Linked DNA regions of Homo sapiens: regions 2, 3 and 4 are each linked to region 1. The links come from fine-mapping of genetic effects on gene expression. A gene starts in region 1. Each other region holds a variant in brackets. All regions are shown on one strand. Distances are from middle to middle.

Region 1 (7,575 bases):
AACGGAGCTGGAGAAATCTTAGAATTCTGAGAGGCCCGTGGGAGGGATGCACGTTTTCTCACTCTTGTGGTTATCGTTGGTGCCAGTCTGAACACTTTGATCTCGAAGCAATTTGTCGGAGCCCTCGTTCTCCCACCATCTGTCTACATGCCAATTGTCTTGAGGAGATTTACACACGAAGCAAATCCAATTAAATGAAGAGACTGCCCCTGGCAGCTCTAAGCATTTCTAACACAGGAAGGCCACGCTCTGGAATCCAGCGGGCATTCCCAAATCATGGCTGATTATCAGGTATTTCATCAAACAATTTCCAGTTTGCCAGCAAACCACAGGCTGACAAGACAAAGGCAGGGGTCAGTGTGATTCTAAGATGGTGCTTCAATGTTCATATTTCATTCATGACAAGCATTGCATGCATTAGAGTACAGTTTCCTTAGGAATTCAAGAGTAATTTGAACCATTCAATCTCCAGAACCAAAATAACACAAATAAGAGCAAGGGAGATAAAAGGTTTCCCAAAGAACTTTTTCTCTGAAGGTCGATAGGAGTTAGAATTATAGTCTGAAAAGATTAAGCGACACAACTTTCAATTTCCCATTCATCCAGGAAACCCTGCCTCTTCATCCAACACAATTCAGAAAACTTAAAACCGGCCAAATGTGTCTAACTAAAAATGAAGGCTGGACATGATGGCTCATGCCTGTAATCCCTGCATTTTGGGAGGCCAAGGCGGGAGGATCACTTCAGCCCGGGAGTTAGAGACCAGTCTGGGGAATACAGGAAAACCCTGTTTCTACTAAAAACTAAAATAAAATAAATTGGGGGGTGTGGTGGTGAGTGCCTGTTGTCCCAGCTACTCCAGAGGCTGAGGTGGGAGGATTACTTGAGCCCAGGAGTTTGAGGCTGCAGTGAGTTATGACTGAGCCACTGCACTCCAGTCTGGACAACAGAGGGAGACTGTCTCAGAAAAATTAAAAATATAAAAATAAAAATAGGGCCAGGCGCAGTGGCTCATGCCTGTAGTCCCAGCACTTTGGGAGGCCTAGGCGGGCAGATCACAAGGTCAAGAGATCGAAACCATCCTGGCCAACATGGTGAAACCCCATCTCTACTAAAAATACAAAAATTAGCTGGGCGTGGTGGTGCGTACCTGTAGTCCCAGCTACTCGGGAGGCTGAGGCAGGAGAATCGCTTGAACCCAGGAGGCGGAGGCTGCAGTGAGCTGAGCTTACGCCACTGCACTCTAGCCTAGCGACAGAACAAGACTCTGTCTCAAAAAAAAATTAATAAAAATAAAGACCTTTGTGAAGATCAGGCCCCCAGGGACCAGCTGGGATGCTGACTTGGTGAGGCAAGTGTGGGTGGGGGTGACTCTGGATGTGCTGGTGTTTGCAGGAGTGAGCAGCCACCATTCCTTCCAAGTTGACCTTCTGGGGCTCAGGGTCTCCAGCTAGTGGCTCTCGGGGGGTGCTTCACAGCTCCCTGAAAAATGGAAGTTCTTACTCTGGAAGTGGGGACTGTGTGTTCCTTTGCGGGTGGCTGTTGTAGATGGGTTTGCAAGCCTTGTGAGGGCCCTGTGGTTTCTGGGCGTATAGATCCCTCTTCCTTGCTATGAGCCTGCACCCCCAAGGGATACCTCACGTGCCTCGGGCCCCACTCAGGGAAAACAGGTACCAGCCTCAGCTTCCTCCCTGCTGGGTTGAAAGGCAAGGTCTGAGCCTAAGCCACCAGTGGCACCTTCGTGCCCGCCACTCGAGAGTTACTTGAAGCGAATGAGCCACAGAAGCAGAAATGCCTGTGATCCTGATTGTTTATTAATAGGGCACAGCAGCAAGTTCGTTTCCATCTGGAATTATTAGCACCACCAGTTGCCATTCTTTTTTTCCCTCAGGGAACTATTTAAGACCCAGGATCAGGCCAGTGCGCATTCCAGGGGCAGGCTAAAAGCAGCAACAAATAGGAGAGAAAAAAATTATGTAGTCTTACCAGTCACCACCACGCAGCTGGGCTGGGAATCCATGAAGACGAAGTGGGAGCTCGCGCTGCGCCTCCCTGGCTCAGGCAGCGGCCCAGCGGCCGGGCTCTGCGCGCTCTGAGCTCCGGGCACCTTCTCTGCCTGGCCGCGTGCTCGCCGGGGACCGGGGTGGAGCGGGAGCCCAACCCCTCCTGGCCGCCCGGCGTCCGTAGCGTTCTGGGCCCCGAAAGGCCAAGGATCTAGGGGAGGGTGATAAAGCAATGCCCCTTGAAAGCAGAACGATCCAGCTCAGGACAGCGGGTTGGAGCGCCAGCAGGGACTTTCTGGACATTTGAGTCTGGGTCACTTTGTTGTTCAGGATGGTTCAAAGGTGAGCTAAGGGTTTGGCTACCAGCTGTCCCGGTTTGCCTGGGACAGAAGGATGTCTGGGACGGAACACCACATGGTGCTCAAAGAGGTACTGTCCTAGGAACTGTGGGCTACCCTACAAGTCGTTTACTTAGATCTTATTTTTTCCTCTTTAGTAATCCCTGCCAGAGCCCCTCATTGTGTTTGGCCATTATGATTTGGTAAAATTTGATTGCTCTGAAAACTAATTCCACAAAATATGTGAGATGTGAGCAGAAAAAAAAGAGAGAAAACCATAGATGAATCTTATGGCGCCTGCCTTTAAAATATTGATTGCAAGCACCGCTGCCTAGGAGCTGTGGGTCCTCAGGGAAGTTAACCTCTGTGCTCAGGTTTCCTGTTTTGAGAAACGAGGATCGCAGCACCGGATCCTGTATGGATTCTTTCTGTGCCCCAGGCACTGTCCCCAGCTTCATCAGCCCTGAGGAACAGAGGCTTGCCACCTAGCTAGCGTCTGTGCAAGCTTGCTAGCTCTGTGCTCACCACCCTGCGTTCTACCTGCGAAAAGTGCTTTCTTGACACTGTGCTGGACTCCTTAAACATGCCACTGACAGTGAGCCACAGCCGTGGCATGCCACCTGGCTCTGCAGACAGTCCTCTTTTTAATGTGTCAGAATAACTGAAAAAGGCTAACATTTGAGGCTATTTCCTCTATCGAAAAAGCTGTTTTCCAATATCTTGATCTTTCGGAGAATTCTATTTAAAAACAAAACAAACTTTTGGCCAGGTGCACTGGCTCACGCCTTTAATTTCAGCATTTTGAGAGGCCAAGGTAGGAGGATAGCCTGAGGCCAGGAGTTCAAGATCAACCTGGGCAACGTGGCAAGACTGCATCAATTATTTTTTTCAAAACGTGGTATATGCCCATAGTCCTGGCTTCTCAGGGAGGCTGAAGCGGGAGGATCACTTGAGCCGTCAGTCGTAACTGCACCTCTGCACTCCACCCTGGGTGACAGAGTGAGACCCTGTCTCTAAAAATATTCTTAAACTTTTTTTTAAACTGAAAATACTTTTTTCCTGAAGCTGTATATTAAGAGGAAGAAGACCCATGATTCTCTGTCCCCATCTAGGTCTGGGGAGGAGAAGCTCCCTTCAGGGAAGCAGGCAGAGCCTCTCAAGCACCCTGCGGCCTCTAGAGAGCTCAGTGTGACAGCAGGACCACGTGGCTCCATCTGCTGAATTGTCCTCCTGATATAAAGCGCTCCCTTTTAATTGGGATCACCCCCGCGGATTAGACCCCCCTTGGTGGCTTTCTGGGATTCTGAACCAGGAACAATTCCCTTTAATTAGCTCCTGGTGTGGGCTGCAGGCCTCTTCACTGCCAACAGGTGGGAAGCGCCATTTGCTCCCACTAGTCTCCCACTCCCTGTCCTGAGAAGCTGGGCCCACCTTGCCATGAGTGGGATGCAGAGGATTTTTGTACTTTGCCTCATTTCACAGAAGTTACCCGGTTTCTCAATATACCCCGGATGCACTTGTAGACTTGGTCTCTACCTCCTCTGGTGAGCAGCTCTCCTAGCTCCTATCACTTACCTAGTTCCGTCATGGTGTGTCCAGAATCGGCGGATTCTTGGTCTCACTGACTTCAAGAACGAAGCCGCGGACCCTGGCGGTGAGTGTTACAGTTTTTAAAGGCAGCGTGTCCCAAGTTTGTTTCTTCTGATGCTCGCATGTGTTCGGAGTTTCTTCCTTCTGGCAGATTCGTGATCTCGCTGACTTCAGGAGTGAAGCTACGGACCTTCATCATGAGTGCTACGGCTCTTAAGGTGGCGTGTTTGGAGTTATTCGTTTCTCCCGGTGGGTCCGTGATGTGGCTGGCTTTAAGAACGAAGCTGCAGACCTTCACGGTGAGCGTTACAGCTCATAAAGGCAGTGCGGACCCAAACAGTAAGCAGCAGCAACGGTTATTGCAAACAAGCAAAACAACAAAACTTCCACAGCACAGAAGGCGACTCCAGCAAGTTGCTACTGCTACCTGGGGCAGCCTGCTTTTATTCTCTTATCTGGCCCCACCCACATCCTGCTGATTGGTCCATTTTACAGAGAGCCGATTGGTCTGTTTTACAGAGAGCTGATTGGTCCGTTTTGACAGGGTGCTGATGGGTGCGTTTACAATCCTGGAGCTGGACACAAAAGTTCTCCACGTCCCCACTAGATTAGCTAGATACAGAGTGTGGACACAAAGGTTCTCCAAGTCCCCACCAGAGTAGCTAGATACAGAGCGTCGATTGGTGCATTCACAAACCCTGAGCTAGACACAGGGTGCTGATTGGTGTGTTTACAAACCTTGAGCTAGATACAGAGTGCCCATTGGTGTATTTACAATCCCTTAGTTAAACATAAAGGTTCTCCAAGTCCCTTCCAGACTCAGAAGCCCAGCTGGCTTCACCCAGTGGATCCCGCACCAGGGCCGCAGGTGGAGCTGCCTGCCAGTCCTGTGCAGTGCGCCTGCACTCCTCAGCCGTTGGGTGGTCGATGGGACTGGGTCCTGTGGAGCAGGGGGCGGCACTCGTGGGGGAGGCTCAGGCCGCGCAGGAGCCCATGACGCGGGGGAGGAGGCTCAGGTATGGCGGGCTGCAGGTCCCGAGCCATGCCCCGCACGGAGGCAGCTAAGGCCCCGCGAGAAGTCGAGCACTAACAGCTGCTGGCCCAGGTGCTAAGCCCCTCACTGCCCGTGGCCGGCGGGGCGGGCTGGCTGCTTGGAGTGCGGGGCCCGCCGAGCCCACGCCCACCCGGAACTCGCACTGGCGCGCAAGCGCGGCGTGCAGCCCCGGTTCCCGCCCGCGTCTCTCCCTCCACACCTCCCCGCAAGCTGAGGGAGCCGGCTCTGGCTTTGGCCAGCCCAGGAAGGGGCTCCCACAGTGCAGCGGCGGGCTGAAGGGCTCCTCAAGTGCCGTTAAAGTGGGAGCCCAGGCAGAGGAGCCGAGAGTGAGTGACGGCTGCGAGGCCTACCAGCATGTTGTCACCTCTCAGTGGGGGCTTGGCTTCCTCTGCACAGTTAAAGGAAGAGATTGGACCATTAAGAAATGCCCACTTCTTCTTTTTTTTTTTTTTTCAGATGTAGTCTCGCTCTGTTGCCCAGGCTGGAGTGCAGTGGCGCGATCTCGGCTCACTGCAGCCTCCGCCTCCCAGGTTCAAGCAGTTCTCTCCCTCAGCCTCCGGAGTAGCTGGGATTACAGGCACCTGCCACCAGCCCTGGCTATTTTTTGTATTTTTAGTAGAGACAGAGTTTGACCATCTTGGCCAGGCTGGTCTTGAACTCCTGACCTCGTGATCCACCTGCCTCGGCCTCCCAAAGTGCTGTGATTACAGGCGTGAGCCACCGCGCCCGTCCAGAAATGCCCACATTTGTAAAGTTGGTTGCTGCTAGGGTCCAACTCTGCTATCAACATTCACCTATGAGGTCTGGGAATGGGAACTTGTGTTTAAGGAGACTCCTTAAGTGCAAAGACTGCCCATCTTTAACCATACTACTTTTCTGATAACAAAGCTGAAATTTTCATCATTTTTTTTTTGATTTGACAGGAGCTATTATTTTAACTAAACTGGAATGTGTCCTGCAGTTTTCACTTTCCCATAATTCACTTATTTTTTTCTGTTCTAAAGTTTTCTCTAATTTTGAAATTAATAGAAAAAACAACACAAAATATTTTACTTAGTCACAGTGATATGTCTATTTTTGTATTCATTCACCTCCCCTCTCCCCACACAAGAACCCCCCAGCACATTCCTACTTTCTGGAATGAAAATAGCTCTGAGAAGTATGGATTTTGAGGTTCAACATCTGCACTTTTATTTCTTTTTCCATTGTAAAAACAAATGGTCTCTAATAATTGATGTCAAACACAGTCTTTAGGCTGATGAAATACAGTAAGCCTGAGAACGAATAAGGCAACTAAATGGAGCTGTTTTATTTAACAGAGAGCACAGTGATCTTCCTTACAAGCGGGATTCCCGAGAGGAAAATGTTTGTAATCAGATTTGACTCTAGGATTAAGAGGGCAAGGTGCGACCCTCTTAGTGAACCGGAAAGTAAGCAACGGTACACAAGTGTTCTCACCAGGGACAGCAAATGGGAGTTGCCAAGATTACAAGATCCCAAGACCTCAACTATTTCACGTGCTGAACTAAACTCAAAACTTTGTGGGATTTGTTTTAAATTTCTCATTGGCAAGTGGTGACTTCCTGCTCTCGCAAGAAAAAAGATTAAAGGGGTTTGTTTACTGTCTCTGACACAAACAGCTCTTACAACACATTTTGTACACTTGACATAAATGAAATTTAATCAAACTGGTCAAATTCCTTTGGGAGGTGGGGAGAAAATAAATCAATCAGCAAGAAGCACTTGTGATTTCCAAAATAATGATAACATAAGTCTTTCTCCATGTCAAACATCACTGTTTCCAGATAAGCGACTTAGCTCTACTATAAAACACAACCCATAGCCAAATTGCTTCTTGTCAAAGCACTAAGGGATCCTCCAATAATGTCACTCTACCAAGGCAGATTCAGAACTCACCCTCCTCTATACCTCTGCCTCTGCAGCTTTGTACCCCAGCAGGGGCCAGCCAGCACACGATTTCTGAAAAGGGCCATAAAATAAATGAATAAATGTAGTAGACTTTTTTTTTTTTTTTTTTGAGACAGGGTCTCACTCTGTGGCCCAAGCTGGAGTGCAGTGGTGCAATCTCGGTTCACTGCAACCTCCGCCTCCCGGTTCAAGCAATTCTCGTGCCTCAGCCTCCTGAGTAGCTGGGATTACAGGTGTGCACCACCACACCCGGCTAATTTTAGTAGTGCCTGTAGTCGCAGCTAATCGGGAGGCTGAGGGAGGAGAATGGCGTGAACCTGGGAGGCAGAGCTTGCAGTGAGCCGAAATCGCATGCTGCACTCCAGCCTGGGCGACAGAGTGAGACTCTGTCGCAAGGTGATATTTCTGTTACATTTTGTAGGAGAAGGATTTGTCTTTATTTTTCTTCTGTCTTATATTTTTCCCTCAGACTTTTGCTAAGCCTTGATCACTTTTTTTTTTAGGGACTACAGCTCCTTGACTGCAAAGTAACAACTGTTGCAAAAGGAAGTTTTCTACTTGTTAAAATCCAGTAGCTTGTTACCCCTATTGTTTAAATACTGGATTTTTCTTTCAAATTTCACAAATATCTTAGGAATGACTGGAACATTTGTGTTCTTAA
Region 2 (7,575 bases), 52 kb before region 1:
CTTGGAAGAGACTCGAAAGACCACTTAGTACCTTTTCTTGCCCAGTATAGAAATTCTTCTTCTCCCCTTCTGTGTTAGTTTTTTATCGCAGTATAACAAACTACCCAAAACCTACTAGTTAAGAGCAACAGTAAACATGTATTATCTCTCAGAGGTTTCTGAAGGCGAGGAACGCAGGAGCGGCATAGCTGGCTGGCTCTGGCTTGGAGCCCTTCTCGCGGTTGCAGCCCAGCTGTCCGCCGGGGCTGCAGTCATCTGAAGGCTTGCCTGGGGGAGGCAGACCCACTTCCAAGGTGTTGCTGCATAGGTAGTATGCCCTGCATGAATCGCCCTGTTCTACGTGGGCCTCTCCGTAGCACTGCCCAAGTGTCTCAGGATGTGTAGCTGGCTTCTCTGAGTGCAGAGTTCGGCACACTCTTTCTCTAAAAGGCCGGCTAAAAAAATGTTTTTGGCTCTGTGGGCCCATACGACCTTGACTGTGACTACTGGACTCTGCCACTGTGGAGCAAACACAGCTGTGGGCGTCACATAAGCTAGCGTGGCTGTGTTCCAATACAGCTTTATTTTTAATACTGGAATTTGAATTCCACATCATCCCTGTGTTGTCACAAAATATTCTTATTTTGAATTTCTTTTAGCCATTTACATGAAAACCATTCTTAGCTCATAGACCTTGGAAAACTAGGCAGCAGGCCAGATTTTACCCACAGGTACATAGTTTGCCTGCTGTGCCCTAGAGTAAAAGATCCAGGACCTGAGCAGAAGGCACGACGTCCTTTCTGACCAAACCTCAGAAGTCACACTGAGGCTCTCACCTTCTCCTTCAGGTTACACCATGTGAGAGTCAATCACGTGGGGATGTGAGCTCCAGGACACAGGGGAGAGGACCACTGGGGATCCGGGAGCCTGGCTACCCCCCAGTACCCCACCAACACACACACACACACACACACACACACTGCCCCTCACAGGTGACCATCTGCTCCACACTTTGAGCAGCGCAGCCACTGTTTTCTTGCCAGCCATTATGAGAAAAATCATGCTTTCAAGTCTGAATATAAGCCATGGAGTAAGAGGTCTGATGACCACTGAATCTGCATAAAGGTACAGTGCTAGAATCTAGGCTAATACTAGAACTGGTGGTATTTTAGCAAGCTTAGAAACAGCCCATGAAAGCAGGTGTGAGTTCTGCTTCTGTGGTTTAGGGTGGGTGAGGGAGAGCGGTATTGTTCTGTGCTTTCTCTTTGACTCGGGTAAACGTTTATCTACAAGAGACTTGTGGGATTCTTACTTGGTCCACCTCCAGGTGACTGGGCTTTTACTATTAATGTAAACTGCCTGGGACGCAGCCCCTGCCATGGGAAACGCAGGGCACTTCCTGTTCTCAGCATAGAGTGACAAGGAAATTTACTCAGAGCGGTTACTCTGACATTCAATGTTTAGTTCAGGAGGCATTTCTGCTTTGCCATCGAGAATTTTTCTCCCTTCTAAGAAAATGTTTTCTCCTGAGAAAATTTTTCTCCCTTCCAAGAAAAGAGTAGAATGAAAGGAGGCAACTTGGTTTCATAGGGAGTGTCATGTTGTCCTTCTGAGTTTACTGATGAGCTTACCTGAGAAAGGAGGGTTCTAGCATGGGAGTTCTGTTGCTACAAGACATGAAAGAATGGCCTCCGTTTATCCCGGAGAGGAGAGTCCCTGAGCCCTTGGGAGTTGCCTTGAAACCTCTGCCGGGTCCCAGGTGAGAAAGTGTGTGAGTTGTGTGGTTCTGAGATCTGAACAGGCACCATCTGGTGACACTAGGGGCTGAAGGAGCTCGGTGGCTGCAGGTGGACTGGAGCTCACCATCAGGAAGTAGCCAGATTCTCACCCCTCAGTGTCACCGAGTGTTCTGGCTTTAGAGGAAGGACTCCGTGGTCCCCAAGCCACAAGGTGTCGAGGTCTGAGTCTCAACGCCATGACTCAGTGTGAATTAACTTAGCAGGTATCACAACATCAGATTTGGGTTGTGGTTCCCTGCTGGGTCTGTACTTTAGATTGATGACAAAGCCCGTCCTCAGCCTTATTTCAGCCCAGATCTCGGTATTTATGCCACAGATACTGTTGAGCTCCTCTGGGTGCGTGCTGACCCTGAGGTCACACAGATGAGCCAGGAGTGGCCCTGGCTTTCAGGAAACGTAGTGACGTAAAAGGTCCCGGCTGCTGCGGGATAAGGGCCAGGGCAGAGGTGTGAACGCAGCCGTGGAAGACTTGGGCCAGGAAGCCATTTGTTCTGCTGCTAACACTTCCACAGCTCCACGTGTCCAGACTGTTGCCAGAGACGTCTTTGGTCTACAGGATTCAGGAGGGAATCTGAACTTTAGCCTGGAGCATTATCAACTCATAGATGAGTCTGAAACAAACTTAGTGAAATCTGATGTTTTTTGTAGTTTTCCAGTACAGTTTTTCCCATCGCTGGAATCCTGGTTTGGTTCTGCGGGAATCGAGTGCTTGAGTGGGACCCAGACAGACAGGAAGGGCGCTCCTGCTCAGTTAGCCCCAGTAAGCTCACTGAGGCACACAGGCCCCATGTCCACAGCCGCTCCTGGCTGAGGCGTGGTTCCTAAGACGACCCTTACTGTTGAGGGCTGCCAGGAGGGAGAGACACATTCAGCCCCGCAGGTCCTCTGGGAATCCGGTGAGCGTCGGCACCGGGCTGGGGCCGTGCTGATTCCCGGCAGCGTGTGGGAATGTGCGGGTGCCTCGTGGCCTGCTGACATCGCACACAGGTCACAGCCTGTCCAGTTCAGGACATCAGGGCCAAGAGTGAAGTGAGAATACGGAGGCACCTCTGTGTGCTCACCCTGCTGACCGTCACCCAGCCTCCGGGGGGGGTCACAGCTGGCCCCCAGGAAGCTGCTTCCCAGCAGGGCAGGAATTCCATTTGAGTCTTGTCCCTGTTCCAGGAGAAGGGCTGGGTATGTGTCCCCCAAAGGGGAGAGCATTCGAGAAGGATGGCGCCAGCCTCCCCAGAACTGACCTGTGGTTAAAAAAAAAAAAAAAATTGTGCTTTTTAAAAGATGAGTTTTATCAGCTCACACATCCTTCTAGAGTCTAATGGAGATTTTTTGTGTGTGTGGAAATAGTAAACAAGGTCTTGAATCCCACAGAGCAAAAAAGACTTCCTTTCATGGGCAGCACTGGAAGGGTTGTTACTCTGGAATGGTTTAAAAGAGGCGTCACATGGCTTGTTTGTGCTGATGTCACTGCCTCGCTGCTCTCCTGTGGCACCTCCTCGGTCCCTGGCCACAGGGCACAGAGCCAAGCACATCTC[A/G]TGCTCTTGGCCCAGTTACGCTTCTGCCCAGGGGTAAGTCAGCTGGAGAGGAATTCACAGCCCAGGCATTTCATGTCGTTATGGCCTATTTTAATTTTTTTAACCCCAATCATTTTTCTTAGGAAGTGATGGGGAGTTTGGAAAGGCAGGCTTATTTGTCATCAAGCTGCCAGCTTTTATCAATGCAAACCACATCCCTGTGACATCTGTGACTGTTCCTTGGACAGTTAGGTGAGGGAGGGTCTCCTGGTGGCCCCAGGGTTACTCTTATTTAGGTTGAGAAAAATTCCTTTTTCCAGGATCGTTGGTGATCAAAGTGTAGTCATTCTGTTGCGCAGAGAACTCCATCCCAGCTCCACCCTCATGAATTTTGTAATCTTGGACAAATTATTTAGTATCTTAGTGCTTCTGTTCCCTCATCTGTAACATGGGGGTATATTATAGTCAGTAGCACCTGCTTCACAAACTCGTGAGGACTTCAGCAGTTCACACACATAACTGCCTCGCTGCCTGGCACCTAGCGTGCACATGGCATTCTACCGTGGGGTAGACTTTTAAAATTCTGGCTACAGAGATACTTTTCCATAAAAGTGGCCACATGGAACTCTCCAAATCTAAGAAGCATACTGTGGGGGCCTTCATATTTTGTCTAATTCTTTTCTCCCCAGAACAGGAACCTGCACCCTTCCTTCTTTTAAAGGGCGACGTGGTAAATAAACATTTTTAGACTTGCAGGCCACAGTCTCTGTCCTAATGTCCTCAGCTGGTAGTTGTAGCTGGAAAGCAGCTGCAGCCCACATGGAAATGAGGGAGCGTGGCCCCATGCCAGTGCAGCTGATGTAGAGGCGGGCAGCCCCGGGTTAGGCCCTGTGGAGACGCAGGCCCCCGGGCTCTAGAACGCTGAATTCTAGTGAATTCTGGATGGCTCTCCCTCACACCCAGGCCCACCCTCCCTCAAGGTTGCACCTTCTCCACCTGAAGGAAGCTGCCAGGTGGCCATAGGAGCCCTTCTCTTGGCAGGCCAGCTTCCAGGCCCAGTGGCTTCTCTTACATCAGGGGCCTCCCCTTGGAATGTTCCCTGAAGGCCAGACACGGGCAGGTAGTCTGTGGTCAAGCAGCCACCCTGACAGGAGGCTAGATGCCACTGGGTGTGCTTTGAGTTTCCTAGATGTGGAGAGTTCTGTGTGGCCACTTTTATGGAAAAGCATCTCTTTAGCCAGAATTTTAAAATAAAGAGGATAACTTCCTGGTGAGAACAGACGTGGAAAGGAAGGCACTTTGGTTTCACGCTCATGTAAGAGAGGGCTGTTGGCGGTCACTCCTCAGAACTATGGCCAGCCCTGGATGGTAGCCAGCTGCTTTTTGCCCCAAAAGTCTGTTTAGCTGGGTCTCTGCATTCTGGAAGCTTGTCAAAGCCCGGGCCTTTCCTGGGTCAGGGCAGCCGGCTTTCCTTGTCCACGTGTGGCCGGCTGTTTTCTTGGGGAGCCCCGGCCACAGCCGGCAGGACTCCCTTTGCTCCATGTGACTCTGAGGGCCTCACAGGTATTTGCAGCCCAGGTGCTGTCGGAGCCCAGCCGATGCGACCGACACACAGCACAAGCGTCATCCTGTTCTGCCTGTCCCTTGCGTGTGGAGGGGACTCGTGCCCAGGGCTCTCCTTGCTGGCTTGTTGGAATCTGGCTTCAGGTCTACACGGGGCCTCTCGTTTGGTCCAGAACAGCCTGGCTCATCGGCTGGGGCTTGCTTGTGCAGGGCTGGAGCGAGCACGTGCTAGATGGAGACAGCAGACTCGGAGTGTGCATTTCTTCGTGTTGCAAGCCTGGCCTCACAGTGCCTTCTTCCTTTGGTTGTCTGCCAGGGGTAGCCCTGCACCAGGAGGAAGCTTAGAAATAGCACAGGTGGGAACCGGAGAGAGAGCACTGTTGGGGAAGCTGCGGTCACTCATCAGCCTTCCTGGTGAGAAACCAGGGGTTTCCTGCTAATTCTGGAAAGGATGTTTCAGCAGTGCCTGCATGAGACGCCTCAGATAGAAAACTGGTTATTTTTGTTTCTTAGCACTGCCACCATAGATAACAGCTGTCACGATGGACAGTGTGGACCTGGATTAGTCCTTCTTGGGAAAGGAGAGTTTGGGTTTTGTACCGTGGTGGTTCTGGGTTCTGGGGGAAGAGAATGGAACCGTACGAGGTAAAACAGGAGACTCTGAAGGCCACTTGGCCATCCAGGCAGAAAGCCAGGGATGGAGAGGGGCAGCAGGGCTGTGTTCAGTGCTCCCGCCGTACGCTTGTATGCGGGAAACCACTGCAGGCGGCCCATGAAGCCTCCTGGCCATGTGCGCCCTCCCGGTTTGGACCCCCTCCCGTGTGTCTTGGCTGCAGGTTTGAACTGATGCGCATGTGCTGGCAGTATAACCCCAAGATGAGGCCTTCCTTCCTGGAGATCATCAGCAGCATCAAAGAGGAGATGGAGCCTGGCTTCCGGGAGGTCTCCTTCTACTACAGCGAGGAGAACAAGCTGCCCGAGCCGGAGGAGCTGGACCTGGAGCCAGAGAACATGGAGAGCGTCCCCCTGGACCCCTCGGCCTCCTCGTCCTCCCTGCCACTGCCCGACAGACACTCAGGACACAAGGCCGAGAACGGCCCCGGCCCTGGGGTGCTGGTCCTCCGCGCCAGCTTCGACGAGAGACAGCCTTACGCCCACATGAACGGGGGCCGCAAGAACGAGCGGGCCTTGCCGCTGCCCCAGTCTTCGACCTGCTGATCCTTGGATCCTGAATCTGTGCAAACAGTAACGTGTGCGCACGCGCAGCGGGGTGGGGGGGGAGAGAGAGTTTTAACAATCCATTCACAAGCCTCCTGTACCTCAGTGGATCTTCAGAACTGCCCTTGCTGCCCGCGGGAGACAGCTTCTCTGCAGTAAAACACATTTGGGATGTTCCTTTTTTCAATATGCAAGCAGCTTTTTATTCCCTGCCCAAACCCTTAACTGACATGGGCCTTTAAGAACCTTAATGACAACACTTAATAGCAACAGAGCACTTGAGAACCAGTCTCCTCACTCTGTCCCTGTCCTTCCCTGTTCTCCCTTTCTCTCTCCTCTCTGCTTCATAACGGAAAAATAATTGCCACAAGTCCAGCTGGGAAGCCCTTTTTATCAGTTTGAGGAAGTGGCTGTCCCTGTGGCCCCATCCAACCACTGTACACACCCGCCTGACACCGTGGGTCATTACAAAAAAACACGTGGAGATGGAAATTTTTACCTTTATCTTTCACCTTTCTAGGGACATGAAATTTACAAAGGGCCATCGTTCATCCAAGGCTGTTACCATTTTAACGCTGCCTAATTTTGCCAAAATCCTGAACTTTCTCCCTCATCGGCCCGGCGCTGATTCCTCGTGTCCGGAGGCATGGGTGAGCATGGCAGCTGGTTGCTCCATTTGAGAGACACGCTGGCGACACACTCCGTCCATCCGACTGCCCCTGCTGTGCTGCTCAAGGCCACAGGCACACAGGTCTCATTGCTTCTGACTAGATTATTATTTGGGGGAACTGGACACAATAGGTCTTTCTCTCAGTGAAGGTGGGGAGAAGCTGAACCGGCTTCCCTGCCCTGCCTCCCCAGCCCCCTGCCCAACCCCCAAGAATCTGGTGGCCATGGGCCCCGAAGCAGCCTGGCGGACAGGCTTGGAGTCAAGGGGCCCCATGCCTGCTTCTCTCCCAGCCCCAGCTCCCCCGCCCGCCCCCAAGGACACAGATGGGAAGGGGTTTCCAGGGACTCAGCCCCACTGTTGATGCAGGTTTGCAAGGAAAGAAATTCAAACACCACAACAGCAGTAAGAAGAAAAGCAGTCAATGGATTCAAGCATTCTAAGCTTTGTTGACATTTTCTCTGTTCCTAGGACTTCTTCATGGGTCTTACAGTTCTATGTTAGACCATGAAACATTTGCATACACATCGTCTTTAATGTCACTTTTATAACTTTTTTACGGTTCAGATATTCATCTATACGTCTGTACAGAAAAAAAAAAGCTGCTATTTTTTTTGTTCTTGATCTTTGTGGATTTAATCTATGAAAACCTTCAGGTCCACCCTCTCCCCTTTCTGCTCACTCCAAGAAACTTCTTATGCTTTGTACTAGAGTGCGTGACTTTCTTCCTCTTTTCCCGGTAATGGATACTTCTATCACATAATTTGCCATGAACTGTTGGATGCCTTTTTATAAATACATCCCCCATCCCTGCTCCCACCTGCCCCTTTAGTTGTTT
Region 3 (7,373 bases), 38 kb before region 1:
GTCTGCCCCTAGGGACCCTACAATGTAAACATTATTTTTGTCAGGGGAAATGGCATGTATGGCAAGGTGTGTTCTAGAATCAGACTAAGGATTCAGACACATCAGGCAGAGAAGCTGGTCATTTCCTTCAACTTTATCATGGGAAATTATGCTCCAATAGCAAAATCGGGCCAGTAGAAGAAGAGCTGTCCAGCAATGTATAGGTAGAAGTAAACCGAAGACCATGGTTACTTCAGACCTGTTGAGCCTCAGAAGTGTTTGCACCTAAAAGCAAAGGCCTTTCTGAAAGGGGACTCTCAGCTGGGGTGCGGTGGCTCACGCATGTAATCCCAGCACTTTGGGAGGCTGAGGTGGGTGGATCACATGAGGTCAGGAGTTCAAGACCAGCCTGGCTAACATGGTAAAACCCCATCTCTACTAAAAATACAAAAAATTAGTGGGACATGGTGGCGGGTGCCTGTAATCCCAGCTACTTGGGAGGGTGAGGCAGGAGAATCTCTTGAACTCAGGAGGCAGAAGCTGCAGTGAGCCAAGATTGTGCCACTGTACTGCAGCCTGGGTGACAGAGTAGGACTCTGTCTCAAAAAGGGTACTCAAGCTTGGCATTGCTTCAGGGTTACTGCTCAGTGTTGTCACCGAGTGCCTGGCACTCAGGGGATCTTCATTAGGTGACTGATGATGAGGAGGTCTCAATTCTGAGGCTGGAAAGCCCAACAGGGCCTCCTCCTTCCCTGGTCAGGTAGATGCTGCCCTTCCAGGTTGCCACAGTGCAGTCTGCACTTGGCCTGCCCAGCCAGAAGGAGCAGCAATATCTAAGGATGAAGGTGCTGGGTCTTCAGAAGCATTAGAACCTTTCCCCTCCAGGCCATTTCTTAAGACTGCAAGCCCTCAAGAGCTATTTCTGCATTTACCCCCCAAGTCCAGGTATGAGTCCATACTCACTCAGATGTGTGATTTTTGTAGTGTTCTAATGTTGCTAAAAAGACCTTCACATCCATTCTCTCACCAGATGTTCACAATCACCCTGCAAAGGAAGGATTTTAATTACTCTTACAGATGAGCAAACATACAGGCATGCTCAAGACCCCTCCCCCGCCCCCCCACCTCCCCACCAGCTACCAACTCAGGACTCAGCCTCTCAGCCTTTTCTGCTGTGGTTCTCAATCTGGCTTCAGCACTGCCAGAACTAAGCAGGCTCTGTGCATACTGACAAGGGATGCTGGGTGAAGTACACAGCCCAGGTGTGAATGAGACTTCTGGGGTTCTCCCTGGAGAACTTCAGGGGCCACAGCGGGGGGAAATGATGGGGAAGTTCTTGAAGAGGGAGCTCTGGGCCTCCCAACTGGATAATATCTAAAAATTTAAAAAATGTTATGGCATGCTGCCAGGCAGTCTGAAATATAACACTGGAGCCCAGTCCTGGGGGCCCCTTGCTTGCCAGTGTCCTGGGACAGAATTGCCCATAGCAGAGACAGATCTCCACATTAGCAACCATGCAGCCAGACCTGTGCACACCGCCCAGCACCACCTCCCCCCATCCCCCAATATGTGGGCTTTGATCTGTTTTCTAGCAAATGATCCAGGTGTACTTGCAAAGGGAGTCCCCTAAAGGCTACTCCAAATGCAAAAAGCGTGCTGGCGGCCTTGACTGCTTCCTTTGGTTTTCTTGTGGGTTTTTGTTTGTTTTTTTTTTTTTTTTTGAGACACAGTTTTGTTCTTATTGACCAGGCTGGAGTGCAATAGTGCAATCTCGGCTCACTGCAACCTCCGCCTCCTGGGTTCAAGCGATTCCCCTGCCTCGGCCTCCCAAGTAGCTGGGATTATAGGCACCCACCACCACACCCGGCTAATGTTTTTGTAATTGTAGTAGAGACTGGGTTTCACATGTTGGTCAGGCTGGTCTTGAACTCCTGGCCTCAAGTGATCCGCCCACCTCAGCCTCCCAAAGTGCTGGGATTATAGGTGTGAGCCACTGCGCCTGGCCTGGTTCCTTTGTTAGGAAGCTGCAAATGCTTTTCTTAATAGTGAATGAATCCAAACACTAACTGATGAATTTTTTAAATGTAGTCAAGTGAAAAATGGTAGTTGTAAGCACACCAACGTAACAAGAAATTTCCCAGAGCTCACCTACCTTCACTCACTTCCTCCAAAAAAAAAAAAAAAAGCGATGTTACCAATGGGACTCCCAAAGGAAATCTGCCCCTAGAAAACACTGAACAGGTAGAATCTTGCTGGGAGAAGCTTGGCACAAGACCCGGTGCTGTGTCATAAAAGCAAAACAAAACATGAAACAGAAAGGAGATTCTGCTTTTAAAAAGGGAAGACACCATGGAGAGAAGCTAAGCCCGGCTATTAACCTGCGCCTTCAAACCAAACACTACCAGTGTGACTGTAAAATGGTGCAGCCCCTGTGCAAAACAAAATGGCAGTTCCTTAAAAAATTAAACACAGAATTAGCATTGAATCCAGGAATTCACCTCTGGAGATTGACCTGAAAGCAAGGACTCGGATACATATTTGCACGCCAGTGTTTGTAGCAGCATGATTTGCAAGAACCAAAAGGAGCAAGTAACGTAAGTGTTCATCTACAGCTGAATGGATGAAATGTGGTCCATACATACACTGGAATATTATTCAGCCTTCAACAGAATGAAATCCTGTCCCATGCTACAACATGGATGAACCTGGAGGACATGAGGCTGAAATAATACGCCAGATGTAGAAGGACCAGCGCCGCATGACTCCCTCATATGAGCTACCTACAGTCAGATTCATAGGGATGGAGGGTGGAGTGGTGAGCACCAAGTGCTGGGAGGAAGAAGGAATAGGGAGTTAATAGGTACAGAGTTTCAGTTTGGGATGAGGAGAAAGTTCTGGAGATGGATGGTGGTGATGGTTGTACAACAAGGAAATGTACTGTATACTACTGAACTGTATGCTTGAAATTATTAAAATGAGTAGTAAAAGGGGCAAACACAGAGACAGAGAAATCATACAGTAGAGCCTCGGTGGCTTCGAGGCTACCCAGGACCTGGACACACAAGCTCAAAGGCCAGGAATGGGGTCCCTGGAGCAGCGGCTGTCTCTGTGCTTCTGTAAGCATCTCCAAAACAGGTCTGTGGTCCCCACAGTCTGCGCAGGATCACACAGACCCACTGTGTAGATTTTTGGAAGAAAACAGATGACTCGGATTTCATTTTATTGTCATGAAAACCATAACTGAAGCTAGTTCATCCCCTGTGAAATGTCCACCTTTCAGAGTGTTCTTTCTCCTGACAATAAAATAACCCTTTGTGATTTTGTTGGGCTAATTCAGAGTTTTCCACCCTCTTTGTCTTACAAGCAATTTTTGAAAAAGTTTCTCAATGCACAGTTGAGTGCTACATACAGGATTGAAACATTCAATTTTCTCTAGAGGAGCAATCCCCCGGTCAGTTCCCTTTGGCTGGAAGGACCATGGTTGAGTTTTCTTCGAACTGGGCTCTGTGCTTGGGCTTTCCCACCTCTTCCAGCATTTCCTGGATGATGACTCTCAAGGCTCTTCCCAGCAGGCTGGCCGGGAGCCCGCGCGATAGTGGAGGGACATGGATGAGTGCCGCGCAGCCCTTTCCATGATGCAGAGACAGGTAATAGGTATAATCACAGACGTATCTGCAACCACAGGAAATGCCACATTAATTCTCGGACCAGCCTCTAACCTCAGTGAAACATACGCAGAAGTGGCAATGCAACACCCACAAAGCCTGAGGAGGGAGCACTGCCACCCAAGGGAGACTTGTGTTGTTTCACCTCAGAAAGAACATGGTGCCAGGATGAGCTGGGGAGAGCTGGCTCTTGGCCTCATGGCCTCATGACCGGCAAGTGGCCAAGGCAGAAAGGGGTCAGATATTCCACAGCACCTGCATCCCAGTGAATCCCTCTCATTCATGTCTTCGTTGAGTCACTTACTCATTCATTCACTGGGGAAAGGGGAAAAACCACCTACTGGGGATCGGAGTTTGGAGAAACAAAGGTAAATCAATCTTTATCTGGGGCTACATCAACACAGTTAACTCACAACTTCGGTCACCCCAAAAATCAAAATCAGAAAACATTCACGAAATGTTAGTGGCTCTTGAAGTCTGCCTTCCCATCTCTTCTCCTAGATCAACACACCAAAGACCGTGTTTCCACAGGCAGGTCTCACAAACGAGACCTCAGGCAAGGTGTGAGCAACTGTGCTGGCCTGCACACAGCAAAGAGGGGCAATCTGGGGGCGGCACCGCATGGCCAAGTGGCCAGCTGGACGATACAGGATGGCTTCTTGGAGGTCGGGGGGACGCTGACGGCCATTGCTTCTCTCCTACCTGCTCAGAGTCCTGACACCCACAGAGCATACCTGCCTGCATCTCGGGAAAAGATCACGTCGACACCCTCCACAGCTACGCGCTTGCAGACTGCCTTCATGCAGACCCCTGACTCCAGCACGTCTGGGCTGCCAGGTAGGCACACGCCGCCCTCGGGCCAGAAGCTGCGGATGTCGGCGTCCCGGTAGCCTTGGTTCTTGCCAGACTGTTCCAGAATGATCGCCTTGGCGGCGGTGTCCATGCCCACATGCACGACGAGCTGTGTGAACGGGTAACAGCAGAGAGAACCCAGGAAAACGAGGCCCACCCTGCTCACCAAATGTGCAGAAGGGGCCACTCCTTTTGAGAGCCCGGCTCTGTGCAAAACATCTCAAACCCCAAATCCACTGGGAAACCCCAGGATCCCCCACCAGTGTCTCCTAATTAATATGGCTGGAAAGAAAAACAGCTGGATTCTTTTAGCTGAATAAAAACTCATGCTGCATTTACATTTAAATGCTTTTTACTTCAAATTATTCTTACAGGGTAATGTATTCTCTTTTTGTGGGGGGAGGGTTGGAGGGAGGAGAGGCAAGCTAGTAAGTGGTGAGGCTACCACAGCAGAGTCTTCGTGTTTTGGTGGAATCCTGAATCTTTTTATTTTATATTTTATTTATGTATTTATTTATTTTTATGAGACAGAGTCTGGCTGTATCACCCAGGCTGGAGTGCAATGGCACCATCTCAGCTCCCTGCAACCTCTGCCTCCCGGGTTCAAGTGATTATCCTGCCTCAGCCTCCCGAGTAGCGGGGACTACAGGTGCACCACGCCCAGCTAATTTTTGTATTTGTAGTAGAGATGGGATTTCACCATGTTGGCCAGGCTGGTCTCAAACTCCTGACCTCAAGTGATCCGCCTGCCTCGGCCTCCCAAAGTGCTGGGATTATAGGTGGGAGCCACCGTGCCCGCCTCCTGCATCTTTTTTTAAATGAAACTTTAATAAAGGAAGTTAGTGGCCATCCAGTGAAATCTTCTTAGAATTTATTCAAGCTGATTATTTTTCCTTTTTGAAAAATAGCTGCCCAAGTATGTTATCAAAACATCTGGGGCATTGTCTGAATGGCTTGATAGTGTATGTTTTATTAACCTCA[TCA/T]CATCTGGTCCTTGTTTGGGGTTTTTTTTGGGGGGGTGGGGTTGTATCTGTTTTTTATACAGTAATTATGTCCAGATAAAATGGGCTCGTGCTATGAAGATGGGCCTCCCCTAGGCTGGCCACCCTCCCAGTCGCTCCCTGGGCACAGAGGTCCTTGCCTCACGTCCACCTTCAAACCTACCTGCCCCTCATGGGTATGTGTGGGGCCCAACCCAAGGGCCTCTCCCTTAGGTGGAAACTATTTTTGAGTCCTGGCTGGGAATAATACTTCCATTTCTTTTCCTCCTCCTTTCTCTCCAGATTTTCTATTAAGATCTAATCCATATTTTGGCTTAAACTTTTACAAACAGACCCAGAACCTTACACAATCAGCTGGGACCTTGCATGACTGGTGGGGCCTGGGGACGGGGTGCCCCTCAACCATCAACCCTAGAACCAGGACCCGGGGGTTCAGAGGCTCCAGCTCCACATCGCCAGTCCCATGCCCCACTGCCTCTGGCCATCACTTACTTGCGGCTGATGATCTTCCCAGATTCCGGTGACCCTCCGCTTAGCCTCCCTGTAATCTACAGGCAGCTCCAGAGTCCGCAGCTGCACCACTGTTTCATTCCCCAGGCCCAGCTTGGAGAGCTCCTGAGGAAAGCGGCAGGTGGACTTGCCTCAGTTGATGGGGGGGGGGGGGGGGTGGGCACCAAGAGTCCCTGAAAACCCAATCCTTGGGGTCTACTTCCAGGGGTCTTCCGCAGCCTGGACTTTGCCCTCAAGGAGCTCACAAAGTGGCAAGGGGCCAAGAAGAGAGCCACAGTTCCTACCAGAGAGGCAAATGCACACAGCAGCACCTGTCTGTAATCCCAGCTACTTGGGAGGCTGAGGCAGGAGAATCACTTGAACCTGGGAGGTGGAGGTTGCAGTGAGCCGAAATAGTACCACTGCGCTCCAGCCTGGGTGACAGAGCTAGACTCTGTTTCCAAAAAAAGAAAAGAAAAGAAAAATCCAAAGTGTGAAGGAAAAAAAACCCACCAACAACAATACTGTACCCAGCAAAGCTATCCTTCAAACATGAAGAAGAAATAAAGACTTTCCCAAACAAAAGCTGAGGAAATCAATGCCAGACCTGTCTTACAAATCTAAAGGGTTCAACTTGAAAGAAACAGATACTAACATGTAACAAGAAAACTTCTGAAGGTATTAAACTCACTGGCACAAGTAAGAAAACACATTCAGAATACTCTAATATGGTAATGGTGTTAAGTGAATCATGTACGTCTTAAGTGTGAGACTAAAAGACAAAACTATAAAAAATAATTACTACAGTTGGTTGAGAGATAGGCAACATAAAAAGATAAAACTGAAACACTAAAAAGTCAAAAATGTGGGTGAAGGTTGGTGTTAAATTGTAGTTTGTTTTTGATACTTTTCTTTGCAATCCATGTTCAGTTGTTATCATTTAAAAATAACTTATTATAACTATCCAATTTTTTTATAAGCCTCATGGTAATCACAAAAGAAAAACCTGTTAGAGATACATTAAAAATAAATAGCATGGGCCAGGCATGGTGGTTCACACCTGTAATCCCAGCACTTTGGGAGGCCGAGGTGAGTGGATCACTTGAGGTCAGGAGTTCGACACCAGCATGACTAACATGGCAAAACCCCATCTCTACTAAAAATACAAAAATTAGCCAGATGTGGTGGCAAATGCCTGTAATCCCAGCTACTTGGGATGCTAAGGCAGGAGAATCACTTGAACCTGGGAGGCAGAGGTTGCAGTGAACTGAGATCGTGCCATCGCACTCCAGCCTGGGCAACAAGAGCAAAACTCCGTCTCAAAAATAAATAAATAAATAAATAAATAAATAAATAAATAAATAGCATGGAATAAAAACATTCTACT
Region 4 (7,575 bases), 440 kb after region 1:
TGGGAATGCCACCCTCCTCCTGGAACAGTTGGTCCAGATTGCTGATTAATGTTTACCAGAACAATTTAAAACTCAACTTTGCATTCAAAAGAGAGCCCAATGCTATACCAGAGGCAAAGCTTTGTGATCGCATCTGAGCTTTGTTGACGTGCTTAGAGCTGTTTGTACACACTTTTAATTGGTATATATACACCGACTTTTGTTTTGCTCCCTTTAATGCCACTGCTCATAAACACTTCCCTGTACTAACATAAGATCATATCTTTTTGATTTGCAATGGAAAAACTGTGTCACTATTTTTTCCACCACTCAAGCATCTATGGACTTGATCTTTTTGCCAGAGTTCTCTGGCTGGCGTTTGAATACAAAAAAGAATGTGAGCTATGTCATCTGAAAACTGCTGATTAACTCTTAAAATTTCTCAGCTCTCATTTGCTCCACATGTAAAGATTAAAAGCAATAATAGTCATGTGATTGCCTTCTTCTGCTTCAGAACACTCCACCCCCACCCCATCTTCTCCACACATGCCATTCCTTGCAGGCTTCTGGCAGTGGAAAGGATTAGTCAACTATGTCAAAGGCCAGGAGCCAAACATCACGCCCCGCGCTAGCCAGGAAAACCCTCCCCTCCCAAGCCGTGCCCTCTCCCTGCCAGCCCCAACACCCCAGGCACCTGGTACAAAATCATTGAGCCGAGAGTGGGTGCTTCGGTGGCTAACTCTCCCCTTCGCAGCATTCACGGAAATACTCACGGGACCACGCTGGAAAAGAGCATACGGGGTTTCCCCTTGAAGGGTGATGAGGCTGAGTCTCCTTAAAGACAGGATTGCCATTGCAAATGTTACGGCAAAGATGAATTTTGAGCTCGGTGCAGACATAGGTAACCAAAGACGTGATATCACCACATGTACTGGTGTTGGAGAGCAGTCACCCAATCAGAAAACATGACAATGGATGGGCTGGTGCTGGACCCTGGAGCCCACTTCAGGGTGGGGTGAAGCTGTTAACCTTCGAGATGCTGGGTCCCCTGGGGGCTCTGGAGAAAGGCTAGGTCAGCCAACCATGGGGGCACAGCAGTGGGTACTGGGCCATAGTCTGGAAAGATGGCAGGGTCCTCATAACCAGCGCAGCCATCACTGGGAGTACTGGCTAAACACTAGCGCCTGGAGTGAGGGAAGTGCGGGGCTCCCGTGGGTGGCTCCACCTTCTTTCCATGCACCTGCCCTGAGGCTGCCCTCAGCAATCCTTATATCCTGCAGAGAGACCTAATTCCACAACAGGTTAGTATAAAAGGGGTAGAGTACTGTTTGGGGAGCCAGGAGAGACGTGGTCCAGCACAGGGCAGGAGCATAGCAATTCCTCAGGAGCTGTGCCCATTTTTTTCTGTTTGTTTGTTTTGTTTTGTCTTTTCCTGAAACGGAGTCTCACTATGTTGCCCAGGCTGGAGTGCAGTGGTGCGATCTCAGCTCACTGCAATCTCCGCCTCCTGGGTTCAAATGATTCTCCTGCCTCAGCCTCCTGAGTAGCTGGGATTACAGGCACCCACCACCATGCCTGGCTAATTTTTATTTTTTGTATTTTTAATAGAGATGGGGTTTTGCCATGTTGGTCAAGCTGGTCTCGAACTACTGACCTCAGGTGATCCACCCGGCTCGGTCTCCCAAAGTGCTGGGATTGCAGGTGTGAGCCACTGCGCCCAGCCAGGAGCCGTGCCCGCTCTTTCCCAAACAGCTGCCCAGCCTACCCCTCCTCTCCTCCACGCGGCCTCTCAAGACCTTGCTGGAGGTCCTGGGCAGCTCAGCTCTGACACACGTGACTGTTTCGGTCATGGTTCACACTGGGCAGTCTGAATGTGAAATTAGGGTGATTGACAATCACGCCAGGTGCCACCCTAGCAAACCACGAACTTCTGTCTCCCTCGCTCTGACTTATAAACCCTCCTTGGCACAAGAAAAGCCAGTGGTTTGCTAAATAGAGAGCCATTATTCCCTCCAAGCATTCTCCTTGGAGACAAGAACAAGTTTCTCCCTATGGGTCAATTCAGCTGCAGAGAAAATACTTTCTAGTCTTCCATGTATATAGTCAGAAGGAAGAAAGGAAATAGGCACATAAATAAATGCACATTTTGTGGGCAGTCTTTTTGTGCCAGGAAATAACATGTTCAATGTTATTTAACTTAAGCCACACAGGTCTGTAAGAAAGGTGGGGTTTCCCCCTGCCGTTTTTGTTTTTTTTTGTTTTTTTTTTTTGAGACAGAGTCTCACTCTGTCATCCAGGCTGGAGTACAGTGGCTCTGTCTTGGCTCACTGCAACCACCACTTCCCAGGTTCAAGTGATTATCCTGCCTCAGCCTCCCAAGTAGCTGGGATTACAGGCACCTGCCACCAGGCCTGGCTAATTTTTGTGTTTTTAGTAGAGACACGGTTTCACCATGTTGGCCAGGCTGGTCTCGAACTGCTGACCTCAAGTGACCCACCTGCCTCGACCTCCCCAAGTGCTGGGATTACAAGCATGAGCTACCATGCCCAGCGGTTTTCCCCGTTTTACGGATGAGGAAATTGAGACTCAGAGAGGTTCCCAACTGGTGGGTGGTAGGGTCAGAATTTTAACCAGCCAGTCAGCTTGTCTGACATTATGTTCCAAACTTTTCAGAGAACAAATCACCCATATCTCTAAAAGGCAAGACACAAGGTATACTCAGAAGGCCATTTACCCTTCAAATGAGGACTCAACTTGAGGCTGGAGACATATGGCCCCTTCCTTCACAGCATTTTTCTGTTTTACTTTGGACCTTTTTGACATTTTTCATCAGTGGGCTGCTGCTGACTGGTTTTGATAGGCACATTTTTATTTACATGCAAATTCTCAGCAAGCAGCTCACATGTAAATACTATACTAATTATTAAACTTGTATGGCTCATCAGAATGCTGCATCCTAATTGGCTGCAAGATTGTCGATAACCGACAGTAGCCTGATTTGGAGCCTTACCAGTTTTCACATCTGCATAATAAAAGGGAACAGGAGGTTGAGAGTGTATACCTATTTTATATGTGTTTCTTCAAGGTCAAATAATCTTTTATTTCCTTCCCAATCTACATATTCATAAAGACCTTTGTGCAATTAATGAGACGGAAGATTAAATGGTTGCAGATTAAGAACAAACCCTACTATTCTAATTAGAGTAAAAGTTACTTAGTCAATCAGATTAGAATTCCAGATTCAAACTAGCAAACACCGAGGCATAATAACGCCAGCACACACCGTCCCCCTGACTGAACTGGTAGCTGACACACAGCTAGTGCAGCCGGGCAGGAAAGCCATGAGCCCTGGGAATTCTTTTTGCCTTTGCAAAGACCCTTCTAAGTGCCGCCAATGGTGGAAAAATTGAGAGTAGGGGATGGAATCTCATCTCATCACATCACATCACAACAAGGCAACATTGTTTGGCCCCATTGGGGTTACAAGAAGAAAGAGTCTGCCCACATCAATTGGTTTGTGATTTTCCCCAGAGTCCTCTTTGGGGAACGTTAAGGAGTTTTGGCAAACAATGAGTACTTATGGATGAGGTCTTGGGGCACTGGGGCTGGGTACAGAGATTTAAGATTCGGTCCCTTCTGTAAGGGAGCTTGCAGTTTCCTTTGGGACATCAAGACCTGTACATCTGGAGATGATTTTGAACGAGGTCTTCACTTGGGCTCCACAGACGGCCGGAGCAGTGTTTCTGGTTGTTGCTCTTGTTGTTTTGTGTTGTTTTGTTTTGTTTTGTGATGGCGTCTTGCTCCGTCATGCAGGCTGGAGTGCGGTGGCACCATCTCGGCTCACTGCAACCTCTGCCTCTTGGGTTCAAGTGATTCTCCTGCCTCAGCTTCCCAAGTAGCTGGGATTACGGGAG[C/T]GCACCATCAAGCCTGGCTATTTTTTTTGTATTTTTTTACCAGAGATGGGTTTTTGCCATGTTGGCCAGGCTGGTCTTGAACCTCAGGTGATCCCCCCACCTCGGCCTCCCAAAGTGCCAGGATTACAGGTGTGAGCCGTGGCGCTTGGCCACGGAGCAGTGTTTCTTGAAGTACGGGTCTAGAACAAGCATCTAAACAACTTCAGGCCAAAATGCAGATTCCCTGTCACCCCAGACCAGCTGGTAAAGCTGGAACATCTGTATTTTTGACAAGCCCCTGATGATTCTGATGCACATTGAAGTTTAGAAACCACTGGCTTGAAGAGTCCCTGAATGGACTTCAGCGAATCCACAGACGCCCTGACATTGCAGACATTTTATATTTTATGTACATTTTTCTAGAAAGAGGTCCATAGCTTCCATCAGGTTCTCAAAAAGTGTCCATGCTCCAGAAAAAGGTTAATATCCCTAGAATAGCAGAAAGGGATTAGGAGAGGGGAATCCAGCAAACCAGCAGACACTGGCCACATATGACCCAGGGCAAATCATGGAACCTGAAGTTTAGAGATATCCCCAGTGCAGTGCGGTGTTGGCGATTCTTTCCTTCAGCCCCAGTGGTGCAGGCAACAGCACTACAGGAGCTCAGAGGAAAGAGCCAGGGTGAAGCGATGGCCTGGACGAGAGCTCTTCCCAGCAGAGGAGGGTTCGTCTGGTCCACAGAGGAAGGGCAGTCCAGCTTGCTCACGCGGGGTTTGCATAGCCAAGGCACCAGCCAGGCGGGGACACGCACACAGGGAGCACTGGGAGTGTGAGTCTCCTCCTCTCTCTTTGCCCTGTCTCTCCTTTGCCTCCATATTCTCAGGAAACTTGGAGCTTGGTCCCATTCGCACCTGAAGCAGATGGTGCACCTTCTCCGTCCTGAGTGCCGCCCTTACCCAGCGGGGGCAGGAGTCCTCTCCAGACTTTCTGCAGGATCGCTAATGAGATCAAGTCTGCCTGTCTGGAGGGGCGATTATCCTGCGGCAATGGGTTATTACCTTTTACAAGTGGCGCTCGGCCTTCCCCGCTGCCTGCGCGCCTGGGGCGCACACACCTGGGCGGGGACAGGGCAGCTGCTGAGAGCCACTCAGCAGCTGGCAGCTCATTAGCAGACGCAGCCTCGCCAGCGGGCAGAGCCAAGTGGGGGACAGCACTCGGGCCTGTCTGGGCCTCAGGACCAGATCGCAGGAGGAGAGTTGCAACCCCAACCACCCTGCCCCCAGCCCAGCTCAGCCCTGGAATTGGGGCCGGGGATTCCCTACCATGCAGGGGTCCGGGCGTCTTAGAGAGGCAGGGTCCTCATTTTTTGTGGAAGGCTCTGAGGCCCTTGCCCTCCCTGGCCCTAAATGAAAACCCTTCCTCTGGGCCCGCGGGACAGTGAAGGGAGGCATCAGGTCTCCAAGCAGGTTTACCCTCCACTCTGACCTGCGGCTCCTCGTCCCTGAAGCTCAGGAGAAGCCTCTAAATTGCAATCCATCTCCCCCAGAGATGGATTTTCCTGCCCCTCCCTGTACATCCCATTGCTCTGGGGTCAAGCTGGCATGCTTGCAGAGACAGAGGAAGGGGAGGCACGGGGGCGGGGGGCGGGGTTAGCGCAGTGCCTGGACACGCCCACTGCCCCGAGGAGGCCCCGCCCACAATCTCCGGGCCAGCCTGCAGGGAGGACCCGCAATCTTAGAGCCAGGTGCCACGCGCTTTCCCCATCACTCTTCCCCCACGTTAACCTCCGTCCACCCGCTGTGCTGCACTCCCCAGCGCGGGGCCTATGGAGGCTGCCAGCTTCCTGCGGCCCCCACACCTGTTTTTGCTGCAGCTGCGTGCAGGCCTCTGGGGGTCTGCCAGGGCTTTCGGGAGGTCCACGTGGATGTCTCTATCCTCGCCCAGTGAAGGAAGCCTCCTCACACTCTGCCTGAGCACCTGTCCTTTGGCTTTGATCTTCGTCCAGACCCAAAGCCCCACATATTGTCTTTCATATTATTCGGTGGGGGGAGAGGGGTGACTGTGGGAGGGGAGAAAGAGAGAACGGAGAGAACAGTTGTCTGCACCTGGGTCATGGTCTGCAGCATCAGATAAGGGGTAAAAGACACCCAGATAATCCACACTCCCCACCCAGCTTGGGGCCTAGAGAAGCAGAGGCAGGGAGGCCTCATGGACGGTGTCTCTGCTAGTCTCCTCTGGCTGCCCTAACAACACGCCACAACACACCACAACACACCACAGACCCGGTCGCTTAAACAACAGAAGCATGTTTTCTTAGGATTCTGGCAGCTGGAAGTTTGAGATAGAGATGTTGGCAGGCTTGGTTTCTTCTGAGGCCCCTCACTTTGCTCTGTAGACCGCCACCTTCTTCCTGTGTCCTCACATTATCTTTCCTTTGTGTCCAAATGTCCTCTTCTTCTAAGCACACCAAGTCAGGCTGGATTCGTAACCCCCAATGACCTCATTTTAATTTAATTACCTGTCTCCAAATATGGTGACATTTGGAAGTACAGGGAGTTATGACTTCAACAAGAACTTTGAAAAAGGACGCAGTTCAGCCCATAACAGTCTCCCAGGGACCCCACAATTCCTCCAGGGTTTGCCAACCTCCAAGGCAGAACCTGAACCCCTTTCCTGGGGAGTTCCCCCGTCTAGGTGGAGAAGCAGCAGTGAAGGAGGCAGTCATGTGTCCAGGTGCAGGGAAAGCCTCTTGTTCTCCGAGCCGGGAGATCCTGGAAATAATTGTGAAAGGCCGTCTGATCCAGGTGCCGGTTCCAGTGGGGCATCAGGGAATCTTTCAAGTTAACCTGTTTTTTTGTTTTTTGAGACAGAGTCTTGCTCTGTCGCCCAGGCTGGAGGGCAATGGTGCGATCTCGGCTCACTGCAACCTCCGCCTCTCAGGTTCAAGTGATTCTTCTGCCTCTGCCTCCCAAGTAGCTGTGTGCAGCACCACGCCCAGCTAATTCTTTTTTTGTATTTTTAGTAGAGATAGGGTTTCACTTTGTTAGCCAGGCTGGTCTCGAATTCCTGACTTCAGGTGATCCACCCGCCTCGGCCTCCCAGAGTGCTGGGATTACAGGCGTGATTAACCTTCTTCAGTTGAGCATTTGAGGAGGCCTCCCCTAGAGAAGCACACACCCAACCTGATGCTATGAGGCAGGTTTCCTTATCCCCACTTTACAGAATAGAAAAGTGAGGCATGGAGTCACCCAAGAATCAGGAGAGCCAGGATTTGAACCCAAATTGTCTAGTCCTGGAGCTCAGGCTTGGACTTGAAGAACTTGAAGAAAACGTGAATTTAAAAAAATATATATCAAAGTGGAAAAAGCTTTTTAAAACATAACACGCAACCAGAAGCATCAAACCAGATACATTTAACATCATTCACAGAAACCGCTTCATGTCCTATAATAACAATAATAATGGCCACCGCCACAACTCAGACAAAAGACAAAAGAAGTGCCAGGGAAAACCACTTGTAATATACAATAATTTCCATTTTCTTTAATATACAACGAGCTCTTCCAATCAATAAGAAAAAGTACAACAACCCAAAGGAAAAATGGGGTGGGAGGCAGGGAGAAAAGCTGTGAGCAGACAGTTCACAGAAGAAATAGAATTGGCTATGAATCATTTCTACGTGCAAAGTCACCCAAGGACACTC

Direction of the effects. Positions count from the first base shown, and alleles are read on the strand shown. Sizes are in standard deviations (SD) of each study's normalised expression. Not every link is listed here.
For the expression in skeletal muscle of the gene that starts at base 4,350 in region 1, allele TCA in region 3 goes with a higher level than allele T (moderate effect, 0.46 SD a copy in FUSION).

What was found. PIP is the estimated chance that this variant, and not a neighbour inherited with it, causes the effect.
Region 2: its variant is fine-mapped to the expression of PGPEP1L in tibial artery (GTEx, PIP above 0.99). The same link has a PIP of 0.9 or more in aorta, coronary artery and visceral fat.
Region 3: its variant is fine-mapped to the expression of PGPEP1L in skeletal muscle (FUSION, PIP 0.95).
Region 4: its variant is fine-mapped to the expression of PGPEP1L in coronary artery (GTEx, PIP above 0.99).

Annotation. Positions count from the first base shown.
Region 1 is chr15:99,003,443-99,011,017 of GRCh38, forward strand. PGPEP1L (pyroglutamyl-peptidase I like) reads right to left here and starts at 4,350. Exons shown (of 5, transcript NM_001167902.2): 1 at 3,917-4,350; 2 at 1,987-2,214.
Region 2 is chr15:98,951,373-98,958,947 of GRCh38, forward strand. IGF1R (insulin like growth factor 1 receptor) reads left to right here. Exons shown (of 21, transcript NM_000875.5): 21 at 5,689-7,575. The coding sequence ends at 6,070. Among named protein-coding and RNA genes, the nearest start is that of PGPEP1L, 53 kb to the right of the region's middle. The variant A/G (reference allele first, on the strand shown) is at 3,311.
Region 3 is chr15:98,965,047-98,972,419 of GRCh38, forward strand. PGPEP1L (pyroglutamyl-peptidase I like) reads right to left here. Exons shown (of 5, transcript NM_001167902.2): 3 at 5,990-6,112; 4 at 4,379-4,605; 5 at 3,183-3,651. The coding sequence starts at 4,587. The coding sequence ends at 3,432. Among named protein-coding and RNA genes, the nearest start is that of PGPEP1L, 39 kb to the right of the region's middle. The variant TCA/T (reference allele first, on the strand shown) is at 5,478.
Region 4 is chr15:99,442,126-99,449,700 of GRCh38, forward strand. No RefSeq gene overlaps it. Among named protein-coding and RNA genes, the nearest start is that of LINC03080, 11 kb to the left of the region's middle. The variant C/T (reference allele first, on the strand shown) is at 3,894.